2 linked regions of the Homo sapiens genome follow. The protein of the gene in region 1 purifies or fractionates together with the protein of each later gene. This does not show direct contact. Each region holds a gene or a part of one and is shown on either strand. Other genes may lie near its edges. The genes, in order: ASB17 and ARF4.

Region 1 (3,826 bases):
TTTTTTTCCCTTCTCATTCTCCTTCAATTTCTAGCTGAAAAATTTGATAGATGCTTCTCCAGAATAATTTTACATGTGTGATATTTCACACAGTTGACTTTCTTAAAACTATGTTTTCCTTTTACTCAGTTGGGCTAGTCTCTCCAAGTTACCCATTCATCTCTTTGGCTATTTCTCCTCAACTGTCTTTCACTGGCTCCTCTTCCTCTGCCCTCAACATCTAAGTAAGTATGCATGGCCTTTAGACCAATTTTATTTGGCTATTCCCAGGCAATTTCATTTATGACCATAACTTCAATTCCTGTCCATTTATTTATTTCAACAAATACTGAATGCATACTATATGCCAGGAACTGTTTTAGGTGCTTGGGATATATCAGGAAACAAAATAAAGATCCTTACTATCTTGCTTATATTATAGTGAACGATTAACAACAATGTAGGATGAACACAGTAAACAAGCAAATTTTATGTTAGCAGGTGATGAGTGCTTGGAAAAAAGAATAAGTAGAGCAGAATAAGAAGTATGGATATGCTGTGGGCTGGTACGGTCAGGGCATTTTTAAATATTAAATAAGATGATGGAAGAGTACATTATTGAAAGATGACATTTGAACAAAGACCAGAAGGAGGTGCGGAAGTTAACCATTTGGATATTTCAGGGCCCTATGGCGGGAGACTGTGCCTGGAGTGATGAAGGAAGAATAACGGAACCAGCGCGGCTGAAAAGAGGACAGAGGTAATGGGATGCCACATTATTTAGAGCCTTATGGATCACTGTAAGAACTTCACCTTTTACTCTAAACCAAAAGGACAAGCCATTGGAGGTTTTGAGTAGAAGAGTAGTGTGATCTGCCCTTTGTTGAGAATTTGTTATAGAAGGAAGGAAATCACTTAGCTTGGAACATAGTAGTGGAGACAGCCAGATGCTGTACATTATTTGCAGGTAGAACCAACAGATCCCAATATAGACGTGAGATGTAAGAGAAACATTAAGGATGGCACTGTTTATCTAGCCACGTATTGCACATCTCTACCTCGATATCCATTAGGCAGTGCAAACTCATATGTCTAAAACTGATTTTATAGGTTTTTTAAAATATTTTATCTCGATAAGCTTGTATGACCATTTTGGTGGGCTGAATAATGGCCCCTCAGTATGGCAAATAGGATTTTGCAGATATGATTAAGATCTTGAGGTGGGAAATTAACTAGGTGTGCCCAGTGTAATTGCAAGAGTCCTTATAAGTGCAGAGAATGTTGGAAGCAGAGTCAATGAATAAGATATGATGATATTACAGTGCTAGCTTTGAAGATGAAGAGGCTATCAGCCAAGGAATGTAGATGGCCTCTGAAAGCTGGCAAAGGCAAGAAAACAGATTCTTCCCTAGAGCCTCCGTAAGGCACTGGACCTACTAACAATTTGATTTAGCTCTATAAGACTCATTTTGGACTTTTGAACTCCAGAACTATAAGAACTAAACTATAAATTTGTGTTGTTTTAAGCCACTAAGTTTGTGGTAATTTGTTGCAGCAGCAACAGGAAACTAATACAACTTTCGACCACTCTCAAAATTTAGAAATCTGAAGATTAACTCTTTCTTCTCTTAGATCCTCCAATTCTGATCACTTACCGTGTCTTGTAATTCTGTCTAAAAATCTCTCTCCTTTCTCCCACTGCTACTGTTTTAGTTTAAGTTCTCATAATTTGCCTGGACAGTTGTAGTATCAAAGGGTGAACAGAGGTTGGGAGGGATGTTGGTAGAAGAGAATTAGTTCTCCCCTCAAAACTATTATAAATACACATGTAAACTAAGTACATGTACTATGCATGCTATGCAAATTCAGCCTCAGGGACCTTCTCTAACCACCCCCCTTTAAAAAAATTAGATCACTTTCCCCCCAACTCTTCCCACATAGAACATTGTACTTGGAGTGCTTGAGTAGTCTACTAACTGGTTTCCCTGCCCTAGCTGCAGCCTGTTTTCCCAAAATCCAATCTTCAAATGGGGCTGATAAATCTTTTTAATTGTACAAGTTGATTGACCTTCACTGGCCAGGCATTACCCATGGTGTAAATTTCATGTTCCTCACTCTGGCCTACAAAGTCCTTCATTCTTTCAATTCCAGTCTTCATTTCTCTTACTACATGATTCCTATCTCACTCTCTAGCTATTACTAAACTGCTTGTAGTCATTGGATACAACAATGTTGTTTGTATCTCCCTTAGTTTCAGTAATCCTCCTTCTATCTAGATTACATGTCTTCAAGGGAAAGAAAGAAGAAACTCTTTGTTATCTTTTAAAAATCAGTTTAAGACATCACCTATTCTATTGAGCCTTCTCAGATACCTACTCCTCCCTAATGGTGTTAACAATTTCCTTCTCTGCTCTCTCTACCTGTGCATGCTTCTATTTTTGTACCTAGAGTGTGGCTATAATTGCTGTTTAAATTTATGCCTCACTTACTAGTATATGAGCTCTCTAAAATCAGGAAATGTGTCTACTTTGTTTTTGTATCCCCAATAAATAACATAGTGTCTGGCACTTAAAAAATGCTTAATATTTATTATTGTTATTTGAATGGAATGACATCTCTCTTTAGCCACCTACAATCTGTCACACTGTGGCATTTAGATGTTTTTTGCAGATTTGTGGTGAAAATGAACAAACTTAAGTTTCTTCCCCTCGTTAATTCTATCTCCTCTCCTCCAGGGAGATATAATAGGGAAATTATCAAATTAGAGTCTAAACAAGGGAGGATGACCAAAGAATGATGTTGTCGAAGTAAAGAACAACAGATAATAGGAAATTTGGGGTATTCATTATGAGGACATAATAGATGTGTTCAAATACTTGAGAAGTTTTCTTTTAGAAAAGAGAGTTAGCAGACTGATCTTTATAGCTACTTGGGCAGGGTTGGAGAAATGCAAGACTTCAGTGCAGTACAGGAAAGAAGAATCAAATAAAGCTGCTTCAAAATTCACTTACTCATTCAACAAAATCTTGATTGAGCAGTTGCTACGTATCTGACATAGTTCTACACACTCTATCCGTGAGGATAGATAGTGAGCAAACCAATGAAAAAGGAACAACAGTAAATAAACAGGTCAGTGATCAGCAGGTGCAGAGAATTAAAGTAAACTACTGTAATGACTGAGTGGCTTCTTTAGATTGTGTGAGTAGGAAAGGCCTCTTTGAGAAGATGGTATTTATACTGTGACCTAGCTGATGAGGAGGAAGGTCCAATTGAATAAATTTTCAGGCAGAGGGAACAGTATTATGAGGCCTTATGGCAGGAATGAACTTGAAGATGTTCAAGAAACAGAAAGGTCTTTGTGGCTGGAATATAGTGTTCAAAAGGGAGAGTAATACAAGATGGGGTTTGGGAGAAATACAGAGGGACCTTTCATGTAGGGTTTTTATTTTTTTTTATTTATTTATTTATTTTTTTTTATTTTTTTGAGACGGATTCTCGCTCTGTCGCCCAGGTTGGAGTGCAGTGGCGCGACCTCAGCTCATTGCAAGCTCTGCCTTCCGGGTTCACGCCATTCTCCTGCCTCAGCCTCCCGAGTAGCTGGGACTACAGGCGCCCGCCACTGCGCCCAGCTAATTTTTTTTTTTTTGTATTTTTAGTAGAGACAGGGTTTCACCATGGTCTCGATCTCCTGACCTCGTGATCCGCCCGCCTCAGCCTCCCAAAGTGCTGGGATTACAGGCGTGAGCCATCGTGCCCAGCTTCATGTAGGGTTTTTAAAAAAGGGGTATTGTTTGAATGTTATACCCCTTGTATAAAATCACTGTAGTGGAAAAACTGGAGGATTTTA
Region 2 (3,826 bases), on another chromosome or scaffold:
GTTTTGTTCCCAAGGTCATCGGTTCCATTTTCTCTATGCTGTGCCAATAATTACTTCAGAAATGTTTTTTAATAGTAACCATTTAAGGATAAGGAATTCCTTCTGAAAGTAGAGACAAATGTTTGGTTCACAGTGGCATTTTGCAGCCTTCCCATAGATTGGATTAATGTTTTCATGTGTTCATGTTGTTAAATGTACTAAATGGAGGAAGACTGCTGAGAATCCTTGTCATGATTTTAAACTTGTAGCCATAAAATATTTACTGAAATGAAATCTTAATTCTTGTTCATTCCTCCTAAGATTAGAGGGCAGTTTGTAAAACCATTGTGCCAGTATATGTGTAACTAAGTCATTGTTGGATTTTTGCCTGAGTCAAATGTCACCAGCTTTCCCTCTTCAAAAAAAAAAAAAAAAAAAAAAGCTTGGTTGAGACATACTTCACACACTATAAATGTCATCCTTTTTAAATGTGCATATCAATGGCTTTTAGCATACATAGTTGTACAACCATCATCACAATCTAATACTAGAAAATTTTCATCACCCTCAAAGAAATCTTGGACCATTAGCAGTCATTCCCATTTCCTTCCTCTCGTACACCACACTCCCAGCCTCTGACAGCCACTAATTTGTCTTTATACAGTCACCTATTCTGGACATTCATATAAATGAAAACATACAATGTGTTCTTTTGTGACTGATTTTTTCACTTAGCATAATTTTTCAGGGTTCGTCTATATTGCATCATGCATCAGTACAACTTCTGTTCTTGGTACTTTTTTTTTGTATATTTCATGATACTGCCAACACCCAGATAATTGTGTTATTGTCCCACTGTTGTTGGAAAGGATAGAAGTCCGAAAAGAATCATCATCTATCTAAGTACTTCTGCTACTAAGTACCATAAGAACCTGCCATAAACATTTTATTCCCACATGTATTTCTTGCCCTTATCAGTCCTGACAATGGGTAATCATGAAGGCTGAATGATGAGTGATTTGCTTTAATTTAATGGGGTGTAGGATGATTGACTTGGAAAACAGTTCTGTCTTATTTGAAGGCATATGATTGTTTGCTCTGGATTTAAAAACTGAAGGATATGAGACTTCAGTTGTAAGAGTGAACTTTGTGTCGAGAAATTAGGTTAATGTTTAATAATGTATTTAATGCTGAGTAAAGTATATATAGGAAGACATTTTCAAAAATTGGATTCCGGTTGGTAGTTGTTAATGCCTTACCTTTTATTTCCAGCTTCTGGTAGATGAATTGAGAGATGCAGTGCTGCTACTTTTTGCAAACAAACAGGATTTGCCAAATGCTATGGCCATCAGTGAAATGACAGATAAACTAGGGCTTCAGTCTCTTCGTAACAGAACAGTAAGTATTTGGAGGTTGATATTAACCTCTTGACTATTAAGACTTACTAGGATAGTTGTGTAAGCTAATATTCAGTTTAAACATTTATTATCTCCTTTGGACAAATAATGAGCACATCATTTATTTAAAAATATGGTAATAAACTTTAAATACCTTATTTGATTTTTGTAAAGAAACGGAAAACTACTGTAGAATAGGTCTAAAGATTATTGATAGTTTCTTTTTTCTTTTTTTTTTTTTTTGAAGGGAGAGGTGGAAGGAATGGAAAGAAGATTATTGATAGTCTTAATTTTAATTTTGTATCTTTTAAGTAACCCTACAGCAAATATTTTGAAATCTGGCTTTCTTATTAAGGGTCCAGTAATGTTTGTTTGCTTGTTTTAAAAGTGGAGATGGGGGGCTGGGTGCGGTGGCTCATGCCTGTAATCCCAACACTTTGGGAGGCCTAGGTGAGCAGATCATCTGAGGTCGGGAGTTTGAGACCAGCCGGACCAACCAGGGAGAAACCCTGTCTCTACTAAAAATACAAAATTAGCCAGGTGTGGTTGCGCATGCCTGTAATCCCAGCTACTCAGGAAGGCTGAGGCAGGAGAATCACTTGAACCCAGGAGGTGGAGGTTGCGGTGAGTCGCGATCGCGCCACTGCACTCCAGCCTGGGCAACAAGAGCGAAACTCGGTCTCAAAAAAAAAGTGGAGATGGGGGGTCTCGCTTTGTTGCTAGGCTGGTCTTGAACTCCTGGACTCAAGCAATCCTCTCACTATCTCAGCCTACCAAAGCGCTGGGATTCCAGCCATGGTGCCCAGCCTTGTTTGCTTGTTAACATAACAGTTTATGGAGGAGACCAGGTACCACGGCTCACACCCGTAATCCCAATACTTTGGGAACCCAAGGCAGGAGGATTGCTTGAGGCCAGGAGTTCCAAACCAGCCCGGGCAACAAAGTGAAACCCTATCTCTACAAAAATAAAAATTAGCTGGGTGTGGTGGCATGTGCCTTTAGTCCCAGCTACTTGGGAGGCTGAGGTGGGAGGACTGTTTGAACCCAGAAGTTGGAGGCTGCAGAGAGCTGTGATTGTGCCCATTGCACCCCAGCCTGGGTGACAGAGCAAGACTGTTTCTTTAAAAAAAAAAAAAAAAATTTGTACTTCTCTAAAATTGCTTATCATTGATCAGTGATTCAGTGATGGAGATAAATTATCAGAAACTTAGTGTCATAGGCTTTTTACAGTAGTTTTGCATTAACCTGTAAATAAGGGAAATACTGTGGCTGTGGTAAAAAATGAAACAAACAACAAAGAACCTATTGCAGGCCGGGTGCAGTGGCTCACGCCTGTAATCCCAGCACTTTAGGAGGCTGAGGTGGGTGGATCATGAGGTCAGGAATTCAAGACCAACATGGCCAAGATGATGAAACCCCATCTCTACTAAAAACTACAAAAAAATTAGGTGCAGTGGCAGGCATCTGCAAGCCCAGCTACTCTGGAGGCTGAGGCAGGAGAATCACTTGAACCCAGGCAGCAGAGGTTGCAGTGAGCCGAGATCACGCCACTGCACTCCAGCCTGGGTGACAGAGCGAGACTCCGTCTCAAAACAAACAAACAAACAAAAAAAAACAACCTATTGCCTGTTTGAGATATCTCAGGCTGATTTGAAGAACATAAACTGGGCCGGGTGTGGTGGCTCACACCTGTAATCCCAGCACTTTGGGAGGCGAAGGTGGGCGGATCACTTGAGACCAGGAGTTCGAGACCAGCCTGGGCAACATGGTAAAACTCTGTCTCTACTAAAATTACAAAAATTAGCTGGTCGTGGTGGTGCATGTGTGTAACCCCAGCTACTTGGGAGGCTGAAGGCACGAGAATCTCTTGAGCCTGTGAGGCGGAGGTTGTAGTGAGCCGAGATCACGCCACTGCACTCCAGTCTGGGCAAGAGTGAGTACTCTGCCTCAAAACAATCAGTCGATCAATCAATAAATAAGCAAGCAACACTAACTGTAAATGATACAAGTTTTCCATGCTGTGAAGGTATGAATTTGAGCCTTTCCCCAGCCTCCTAGGTTACTGAGATTTGGTATTCAAATAATTGGCAACATGGTATACCTGCAGTGGCCTTGCAACATTAAACTGGTCAAAAAAATTAATAAAAGTAAACTATGCCTTAAATGTAAATTGTTTTCTAGGTTTTTTTTGATACTTTCACACAGTTACTAGAGATAAGATTCGTTGCCATTTAAAAGCAAGAACGTTTTGGAATGCATGAGACTAAAGATGGTGAAATTGTCTGAAAAGCTTGCCCTTAAAATATCAACAAACCCTACTCTTTCTTTCTTTCTTTTTTTTTTTTTTGAGATGGAGTCTTGCTCTGTCACCCAGGCTGGAGTGCTGTGGCACGATCTCGGCTCACTGCAAGCTCTGCCTTCTGGGTTCATGCCATTCTCCTGCCTCAGCC

What was found.
Region 2: the proteins of ASB17 (region 1) and ARF4 purify together in Homo sapiens (affinity purification with mass spectrometry, with the first as the bait; one large-scale study listed by BioGRID). This does not show direct contact.

What each region holds. Positions count from the first base shown.
Region 1 is NC_000001.11:75,925,780-75,929,605, forward strand, and holds part of ASB17 (ankyrin repeat and SOCS box protein 17), read right to left. Parts: intron 1-3,826. UniProt on the Homo sapiens protein: May be a substrate-recognition component of a SCF-like ECS (Elongin-Cullin-SOCS-box protein) E3 ubiquitin-protein ligase complex which mediates the ubiquitination and subsequent proteasomal degradation of target proteins.
Region 2 is NC_000003.12:57,573,099-57,576,924, reverse strand, and holds part of ARF4 (ADP-ribosylation factor 4), read left to right. Parts: intron 1-1,251; coding exon 1,252-1,377; intron 1,378-3,826.